Homo sapiens: one gene and its partners. The protein of the gene in region 3 purifies or fractionates together with the protein of the main gene of each other region. This does not show direct contact. Each region holds a gene or a part of one and is shown on either strand. Other genes may lie near its edges. The genes, in order: CDKAL1, NFXL1 and SLC2A13.

Region 1 (3,659 bases), on a different chromosome or scaffold from region 3:
GGATCGCGAGGTCAGGAGATCGAGACCATCCTGGCTAACACGGTGAAACCCCGTCTCTACTAAAAATACAAAAATTAGCCGGGCATGGTGGCGCGCGCCTGTAGTCCCAGCTACACGGGAGGCTGAGGCAGGAGAATGGCGTGAACCCAGGAGGCGGAGCTTGCAGTGAGTCGAGATCGCGCCACTGCACTCCAGCCTGGGCCACAGAGCGAAACTCCGTCTCAAAAAAAAAAAAAAAAAAAAAAAAAATTGGGTAGACCAGTTCTTCTTACTTTACTCTTCTCAAAATTGTTTTAAATATATTAGTTTCTGTACATTTCCATATAAAATTTAGGATAGTCTTATCTATACCTACAAAAAAATCTTCCTGGGATTTTGATAGGGATTATTTTAAACTTGTGTATCAGTTTGGTCTCCACTGACACTGCAAAACTTCATTACTGGTCGGTTGGTTGGTTTGAATGTCCAGGATCCCTCCAGGTCCTTCTCTGATTCTACACTAGTGGAGTGTGTTGGGGTGCTTGATTGTAGGTAGAAGTCCAAGCTCTCCCCACTTGGCCTTTGTAGCGTGCCTGGGGGTGGGATTACAGTTTTGTGTGTGTGTGTGTGTGTGTGTGTGTGTTTGTGTTTGGCTGGAGTAGAATGATTATTATCTAAAACTTTTCTGTCTTCCTAGGCTGCCCTTTGTATAGTTCTTTAACGAGAAAGCAGGCTTTTATTGGGGGGTTTTATTGTTGGCATCTCTTGCCATTTCTGATTGCTGGGATCTTTAGTGAGCTGTAGGAGGCAGAAGAAAACCCAAGGAACTCATCATATTCCTTGGGTCCTGAGGTTCATAGCCAGTCTGCCTTATGCTTGTTTTATATATAATGTCCAGAGTTTTATTTGTATTTTGCTGGCGGGGCAGGGAAAAATGTGCTTATCTTCTTGCAAGCTGTGTCCACATTTTCTTCTTTTAATTATAAAAATTTTGAATATTTAGAAAAGTCGTATAGGATAATGAACATGAACCTATCTAGTTTCTAGTTTTAAGAGTTGTAAATGCTTTTCAGTATGTCTTAATCTATTTTTTCTTCTTTTTTGAGATGGAGTTTTGCTCTGTTGCCCAGGCTGGAGTGCAGTGGTGCACTCTCGACTCACTGCAACCTCTGCCTCCTGGGTTCCAGCGATTCTCCTTCCTCAGCCTCCCAAGTAGCTAAAACTGCAGGTGTACACCACCATGCCTGGCTAATTTTGTACTTTTAAAAGAGATGGGGTTTCACCATGTTGGCCAGGCTGGTCTCAAACGCCTGACCTCAAGTTATGCGCCCACCTCCCCAAAGTGCTGGGATTACAGGCATAAGCCACCCAAAGTGCTGGGATTACAGGCATAAGCCACTGTGGCTAGCCAGTCTATTTTTTCTGAGGTCCTTTTAAAGTAAATTATAGACATAATGACATTTCACTTCTAAATATTCAATATGCATCTCTAAAAAATAAAATTTTTGAATATAAGGACAATACTTTATATCGAATGATTTATAATAACTTCTTCATATTATCTAATATCCAGCTTATATTCTGATTTCCCTAGTTATACCCAAAATTTCTTATAGCTTGACAGACAAAGAAGAAACAATCAAGAACATGAACTGCATTTTGTTGTTAGGCTTTTACGCTTCCTGTTATCTGAAACAGTTCCTCTCCTACTTTTTCCTACTTGACATTGATTTGTTGAAGAAATAGTTCCTGTTGAACCTTGGAATGTCCCATTGTCATTAGGGTTTTGTCTGATTGTTTCATTGTGTTTCTTTTTTCAATATACCCAAGATAGTACTTCATCCTTGTGTTTCTTTATCTCTTGTATTTTCTATAAATTTGAAGTTAGATCCAAAGGCTTGATTAGATTCAAATTTGGTGAGAATATTTCATAAATGATGCTACGCTAAGCAGATTTTCATAAGTTGATTTTATTTATAACTTTTATGTGGTAGAGAATATGCCTTCTGCATCCTGTGATACACTACTGGATGACATCGAAGATATCGTGTCTCAGGAAGATTCAAAACCACAAGATAGGCATTTTGTAAGAAAGGATGTTGTCCCGAAGGTACGAAGGCGAAATACCCAAAAATATTTGCAAGAGGAAGAAAACAGTCCACCAAGTGACAGGTAAGCTTTTTTCCTTGAAATTATATTCATTTTCTTTTTTTTTCTTTTGAGACAGAGTCTTGCTCTGTCGCCCAGGCTGGAGTGCAGTGGTGTGATCTCGGTTCACTGCAACCTCCTCCTCCTGGATTCAAGCTATTCTCCTGCCTCTGCCTCCCTAGTAGCTGTGATTACAGGCACACACCACCATACCTGGCTATTTTTTGTATTTTTAGTAGAGATGGGGTTTCACCATGTTGGCCAGGCTGGTCTTGAACTCCTAACCTCAGGTGATCTGCCCACCTTGGCCTCCCAAAGTACTGGGATTACTGGCCTGAGCCACTGAGCACGGCCGAAATTATATTCATTTTCATTCCAGGGAGAAGCTGACGCTACTGGTCTGTGTGATATATATAATGTCTCTTCATTAGAATCTTTGAACTTTTGATAGGAAATACAAGTTGAGTATCACTTATCTGAAATGCTTGAGACCAGAAGTGTTTCAGATATCACATTTTTTTTTTTGGATTTCGGAATATTTGCATTACATACTTTCCAGTTGAGTATTCCTAATCCAAACATCTGAAATGCTCCAGTGAGCATCCTTTGAGTATCATTTTGGCACTCAAAAAGTTTCAGATTTTAGAGCATTGTGGATTTTGAATTTTTGAATTAAAGAAACTCAACCTGTATGTAGATTTTTTTTTTATTTGAATGATTTTAAATTTGGCAAGGTAATTGGTTAAAAAGAAATGAGATGTCAAATTGGATGTTCCTAGAAGATAGCCTCGGGCAATAGGGATCTCTTGGGTATTACTGTAGTTGATATGTAAGTCTGTGTTATTTCCAAATAAAATTTTTACCAGAGTTTGTGATTCTTATGAGACAGTAGTATTTTGGACATTTGAATTTTCTTAGCTGATTTTCAAATACCTGTGGATCAGGTAAAGGCAGTGGGCACAAATAAATTATTGCCCTATTTACGCTATTATAGTAGATCTCTAGTCCGTGAAATTTTGATACAACCTAACCAGAAAGGATAATGTAATTATATGGTTTTAATAAGCCTATATTTGTTTATCTAGTCAACTGCTGAACTTTATAATCTGCTTATTTTGTTGGGAAACTAAGCTTTTAAATTCTTGGAATTTAAAATTTGCTTATATTTTAATGACTGAAGTTTATAAAATTTGTCCTAAATGTGTCCTTAAGGTAATTTTTATTTACTTATAAATTATTAGAGCAATCCAAGTTGAAAGTCCTTTTTTCCCCTAAAAGTTATTTTTAGAACTCTGATTTTATAGAGTGCTTTTAATAATGCTTTAGGATGACGGTTTTTAACTTTGATTAAGTTACTTATATCTGTAAGTTTTAAGGAAGCTACAGATTGCAACTAGTATGTAGGAATCTGTAAACAGACATACTTTTCTTTATTTGCCATTGCTGCTAGAACCACTTTCTTTCCTATTGTTATTTTTGTGTACCTTTCCAGGAGTTGAACTTAGTAAGTTAGTAGTATGAATTTAAAATGC
Region 2 (3,659 bases), on a different chromosome or scaffold from region 3:
TATTAAAAGAAAAAGCTAGTGTGGAGGGGGATATGTATTTTTAATAAGCGTGGGTATGGATGACTAATAGGCAACTCAACATACCTTAACACTGCCCATCAGCATTGAAACTGAACTGGCCCAGTGAGGGTAATATGTGCAAACGCATGAGTTTTATTTTAAATAATGGGATGCCAACAATGAAATGTAATTATGCTAGATCTTCTTCATTAAAAAGCAGTATCTTAGTAGAAACCTATATTTTAAATTTTTTATTTCCATAAAATAACTTAAAATTATTAACATTTTACCAAGTTCTAGCTCCATCTTGATGAGGATTAAACAAAATGGGTTCTTAACCAGAATGGTCATTTATTTTCTTAAAAAAATATGAAATATGGAATGCAAAGTATATGGCACAGCTGATTAAACTGTTGTTCCTTTTAAATTAGAAGTTAACAGTACATTTTTTTTAACTGATCCTTTCCTCCTCTGTGGCAAAACGACTACTTAAAACAGAAGTGAGAAGAGCGAGGGTAAAAAAATATATACATAAGGTTTAAATCTCTAAACTAAAACCTGGCTTAATTCCGTACCTATTAGACACTAAAATTCCTCCACCACCAGTAAATAATATGCAGGAGCAAAACAAATATACTTTGAAATGTTAAACAGTTTCCAAAAAGTGTGTATTCAATGAAAAGAAAAATAATATTTCTAAAAGCCAGGTCATAAGAGATAACTCAGGTGGAAGAATAGAAAAAGCACTGAATTTAAAAGTAAGAAATCCTAGGTTTCAAATTTTGGCTCCACTACTTAAGAGTGAGGAGTCAGAAGTCATTTCCCTTCAATTAACTTCAATATCCCCACTGGTAACAGGAGAATAAAATCTCTCACAGATTGCTGAGAATTATTTTTACATACTCTTCTAAAAGTAACTAGCACATCTAAATGTTTTTAAAAACTACACCACTGGCCAGACGCAGTGGCTCATGCCTGTAATCTCAGCACTTTGAGGGGCCAAGGTGGGTGGATCACTTGAGGCCAGAAGTTCAAGACCAGCCTGGCCAACATGGTGAAACCCCATCTCTACTAAAAATACAAAACTTAGCCAGGCATGGTGGCAGGCACCTGTAATCCCACCTACTCTGGAGGCTGAGACGGGAGAATCGCTTGAACCCGACAAGCAGTGGCTACAGCGAGCCAAGAGCGCACCACTGCACTCCAGCCTGGGCAATACAGCAAAACTCTGTCTCAAAAAAAATTAAAATTAAAATAAAAAAAAAATTTAAACATAAAATTAGTTACTAAAGTTACAAAATGTGACCACACAGAGCCCATGAAGCTTATGCTTCATTACTTTGACAGTCAATCTACCTCTCTGGGCAGCCAATATGAATAAATTTCTTATTGTCTTTACTTAGCAGAGATATAAAATTCTACTCTCCAACTCTTTCTGGAAATATAACAAAAGTTCTCCAGATCAAATAATCATCAATAATAAGCAAAACTAATAAATGTAAAAAAATGATATTGTATAATATACACCTGCAGTTTTGAGATTTGGGAGGATAAAACTGGGAATCTTATAATCAAAATACATTAAATGATAGTCTTGTACAATGTAATAATAATGCATACTCATAGAATTCTGGACAAGAAGATCACAATTATGAATGATTCTCAGTCCTAAAGAAAATTGAAAGTCCTTTCAAAGGATAATTAAGGAATTGTTTTGCACAGGAAAAATTAAGTCTGGATGATTTATTAGTTATCAAAAGGAACTAGTAGTTATAGAAATTCAAATTGAAAAAAACAAGACTTTATCAAGATTCCACATCTTCACACACCAAATGACTAATTAAAAGCCCAACATGGATATTGAAACCACCAATAAAGCAACTTAGAATCTACAATCTTCATTTATTCTACAATTTAATAATCCAATTAGGCCAGGCGTGGTGGCGTGCCAGCCTAGTTGGCACTTTGGGATTTTTTGGGGTGGGTCACCTGAGGTCAGGAGTTCAAGACCAGCCTGGCAGACATGGTGAAACCCTGTGTCTACTAAAAATACAAAAAATTAGCCAGGCATAGTGACAGGTGCCTATAATCCCAGCTACTCAGGAGGCTGAGACAGGAGAATCTCTTGAACCCAGGAGGTGGAGGTTGCAGTGAGCCAAGATCGCCACTGCACTCCAGCCTGCGTGACAAGAGCAAAACTCCATCTGAAAATAATAATAATAATCCAACTAATTAGAAAAAGTTACCAAGGCCAGGGACAATCTTTCTTTCCAAAATCATCATCAGTCACAGAAGATACAAGAAACTGGCTGTCTTTAGCCCACTTCTGGATACAGGGCATGTGAAATATACAGAAACATCCCGAACAGCTCCAAACCTAAGACAAATGTATCAGAAGTTAATATATGTTAATTTTTCTTTGTTAATTGTAAAATAATTTAAAATGAGTATCACACTAAACTATTTTCAAGAGCTACCTAAGGATTAAAGAAAAAAGGTCTTTCCTTCCAGTATAACAGAAGAACTGTTTCATGGGAAATGCATTTAAATGTAGGATACTTCGAAGAAAATTATTATTAGTCAAACAGATTCATTCAGCTAGAAATAATTACTGCTAACATTCTGGACAATCTCCAAATTTATATATATATATTTTTTTCATACTTTTAAAAAATGAGGTCATACTATAATAACTGAAATGTAACTTTATAGTCTTTTCTATAAGCATATTTATAGCTATACATTACACCATGTAGACTTACGTACTTAAATTTCTTGTTGGATGATTATTTCCAAGTATAAATAACACTACAAAAGAATCTTTAAACATAAATATGTACATATATCTCTACACAGCCCTTTTGTTATATAAAACCTATTAGTCTAACACCTAACTAATGCTAAATTCTAAAAATTAGGTAATCAAAAAACAAGAATATACATAATTTAAAAGCTTAAGAAATAATACTAAATTAATTTTTAAAACCTGCCAAACACTTTGATAAAACTGATAAAAATCAGTTCCCCTTTCCTTATAACATTTTACAACTGTTTGATAAAATCAGACATGTAGCATATCGCATGAGCTAACAACAGCATTAAACAGCCGACTTCTTAGTTTGGGTTACCCCCAAAGCGGTATCTAAGAACTTGGATGCAGGAGTAAGGGGACTAGACAGGGAAAAAGAAATAACCAATGAATGGCATATGGTTGAGCTGATTACCACTAAGGGCCACAGAAGCTCAATCCTCCAGGGGACCCTCTGTAAAACCATGTAAAACACGCCTTGGACTGCCCAGCCCCACTCGCTAATGGAAAGGAGGTTGGGGCATTCACCTACCAACTCCCTGTGGTGCAATGTTGCTGCAAGGGGCTTTAACTCCCCAGTGCTTCTGCACTATACCCATGTACTAGCTAAGTCAATTTCCAAGAACAAAATTGAGAGGCGGAAAAAACGCACACACACAGCAAATGTTTAAAGTGGGTTTCTATCTGCATGCAGAGACTATGCATTCCCTGCAGCTGAAATCAGAGTAAACCAACTAGATGTGACTCTAGGCACAAAAGGCATCTGTATCTGCTATACTCTTCTACCCAACCAGAGCATGTTAAATTTCTGATTCACTCTACATGACCAAACTATTTCATCTGACTTGAT
Region 3 (2,937 bases):
TACGTAATCTGTGTCTGCTTTAATATGGTAGGTCAAATCACATCATATATAAATTGTCCTACAAAATATATATTTGATGATACTACAAATGGAATGTTTCCAAGTTGATAGTGGTAGCCAAATATGCTGGGAACTTAAAAGGTGCCTAATATAAAAAAACCTGCAAAATTTAAACATTTAATTTTTAATATACTATAAATGTTCACCAAATCTAAAAATAATACCCTAATTGTATAAGGTTCCTTTTCAAGTAATTGTTTCTAAAAAGTTATAAATAATTCTTATACTGTGCCTCTCTGTCTTATACTTCAAAGATATGGAATATTATCTTTAACACTATATAAATAACAAATAGTCCTTTAAAGTAGGGGCTCAGGGGAGTAGGGGAGGAGAACTGTGGCTAATTTTCCCTGTTATTATGTGCATTTATGGTTATAAAGTTGAAAACATTGTTTTCTTATATCAGGGAGAACAGGCCATGTTCTGCTTTAGGAAATAACAAGAGTCCAGTTTCTCCTTTAATAAAGTTACTGTGCATCAGCCCAGCTGAGTTTATAAGTATATAGTTAGTTAAGGCTACATATACAATAAAGAGAAGGATTGAGGCAATTATTTTGATTAAGTCCAAAAAATAAATTTTTAGAGAGCACTTTATTGGTCTACTTTTTCTCCTTATTATATTTTGATTGTACCATATAGTAGCTTATTTTTCACTTCAATTTACCTGTGTAAAATATTAGATAAGAAATTTCTTATGAGATAAGAAATATCAATAGAATAATAATTTTCCCTATTAAATCATATCTGCTTTTCTGAGGAAAAAATCAATACTAATATTCCCTTGGAAATCAATTGTTAAAGCACCTAATTCAAGGAAAAAACCTCTATAAAATATTAATTTTTTTTATTATATGAAATGACCAAAGGGAGAAAACGTTTTTGTTTTTGGTTAATGGATTTTTAGGGCACTAAATTGACAGTTTAAGCACATATTATACCTCTGGTGACTTAGAGAATGAACTTCCTCAGCTGTATTCTCAGCTTGATAACTGTGATAGGAACAAGCCAGACATTAAAAGAATAGAGTATCTTGGAGACTGGAAGAAATATTTTGAATATGGAGATAGCCACCTTTTCTCTCCAAATACAGTACCTTATTAGATGTTTAGAGCCATTTAAAAATGCATCAAACTGATGTATTCCTAACTGGCCACAGAAGATTCATTCATATTTTTCCTGGAACTAGCAAGTAATTTTGTGATCAAGTAATTTTGTACATACTATATAGTTCTTAATAGAAAAGCAAAAATTAAGAGTTCAGTGATGAATTACCATAAAAACCAATGAATACCTTGGAAAGACATTGTGGAAATATAATTAAGCCTGCATTTCTTATAGACGTGCTATATTAGAACCAATTATCTGTTCCAATAGGCAATCTCAATTTTTACACAAGAAGGAAAAACTAAGCCAAGAATAAGAAAAACACAGAGACAAATCTATGTATCTTTTTTTTTTCTGGTAAATTCTCAGGAAAATGAGAAAAGTGTGCAAAATAAAAACGAGTTTATGCTCTTAAAGTAAAAAAAGACAAGTACAATTAAATAATAATATGTGACATTTCCCTTAGGAAGAGCTAATAAAAAGTTAAGAAAAAAGTCCCATTATTTTTATTAAACAAACACCAATAACAGCAGGATTATTTCTGCCACTGATTTCCTTCCTCTTTTTTGTTTCAAAAATTATTGTTTGAATAAAAGAAAGGGGAAAAATGGTTTGCTTGCAGCTATGTATGTAACACAAATGAAGGCACGAAATAGTAGGACTCCAAGGCCAATGAGGAAGGTGTAGTGATTTGGGCATGAACAAAAACTGACCCTGATATACAGTTAAAGATCTGGCACTATTTTGCATTTATAATTGCATACCTAAGTGACTAACCAATTTGGAACCCATAAAAACCTTTAATCTGTTACTTTCTGAACATAAAAGGTACTTCTCAAAACTTCCTAGCTCATCTGCGCAAATGTATGCCTTATCACTGATGCAAAAAAAAGAAGTATGAAAACAACCCGACAGATTATATTTTCATAATGTTCAAAAGATAGTGTGCAGAGTCAGTATCTGAAGAACTCCCAATATCTGAATTGGAGAGAAACAAAAATATGGAATCCAAAGGAGATACGGACAGCTGTGCCCTTGTAGGAGGCACTTTGGAATTTGTTGATGAAAGCTTACATGGAATTTAGTTTGTAACAGCTGATCAGAGATAAGCCACTACTCTGTAGGAAAACTGAGGGCCAATAGGCCATCTTTTGACACAGAACACCCTTGGACCATCTCCCAGAATCCTTTATAAATATATTATACATATGTAATTTGGCTAGATTAGCACTGACTCTGTTGCCACTAATAATTATAAATGGTCTTAGGAAAAAAGGATACCACTGAAGTCACTGGGTACAATATTCATTTTAGACTATTTCAGGAAGGCATTACACACATTTGCTTAAGAATTATTAGATTAAAATCTCTGTAAATATTTTTTAAAATATTGTTCCTTGTGGAAAAAAAAAGTCATCATGGTTGTATCTTCCTCCTAATCAAGTATTCTAGAATATGAAGTCAATCAAAACTAGGCTGTGGAAAGAACCAGATTAGAAGCAGGGCAGTGAAGTCACCAATTGCTGTTCTTCTCCCCCCAGTTTGTTTAAATAACTAAATATATGAGCAGCTGAAAATTATTCCACATCAGAAGCATCATTGTCAGAAAGATGATAGTTACTTCCCTTTACCCGAATATATTCAATATATCTCCCTTCATCAGAATCTGAAGTGCCACATGTACATAGCCTGTTGTCAAAGAGTGATTCAATTTCCTCTAATTTTTTGCCTTTGGTCTCAGGAAGACAGCCATAGATGAAAAGGAGTCCCACA

The links.
Region 1: the proteins of SLC2A13 (region 3) and CDKAL1 purify together in Homo sapiens (affinity purification with mass spectrometry; one large-scale study listed by BioGRID and IntAct). This does not show direct contact.
Region 2: the proteins of SLC2A13 (region 3) and NFXL1 purify together in Homo sapiens (affinity purification with mass spectrometry; one large-scale study listed by BioGRID and IntAct). This does not show direct contact.

What each region holds. Positions count from the first base shown.
Region 1 is NC_000006.12:20,544,373-20,548,031, forward strand, and holds part of CDKAL1 (threonylcarbamoyladenosine tRNA methylthiotransferase), read left to right. Parts: intron 1-1,966; exon of another isoform or gene 1,967-1,973; 5' UTR 1,974-1,978; coding exon 1,979-2,151; intron 2,152-3,659. UniProt on the Homo sapiens protein: Catalyzes the methylthiolation of N6-threonylcarbamoyladenosine (t(6)A), leading to the formation of 2-methylthio-N6-threonylcarbamoyladenosine (ms(2)t(6)A) at position 37 in tRNAs that read codons beginning with adenine.
Region 2 is NC_000004.12:47,900,947-47,904,605, forward strand, and holds part of NFXL1 (NF-X1-type zinc finger protein NFXL1), read right to left. Parts: intron 2,378-3,659; coding exon 2,247-2,377; intron 1-2,246.
Region 3 is NC_000012.12:39,757,285-39,760,221, forward strand, and holds part of SLC2A13 (proton myo-inositol cotransporter), read right to left. Parts: coding exon 2,742-2,937; 3' UTR 1-2,741. UniProt on the Homo sapiens protein: H(+)-myo-inositol cotransporter. Can also transport related stereoisomers.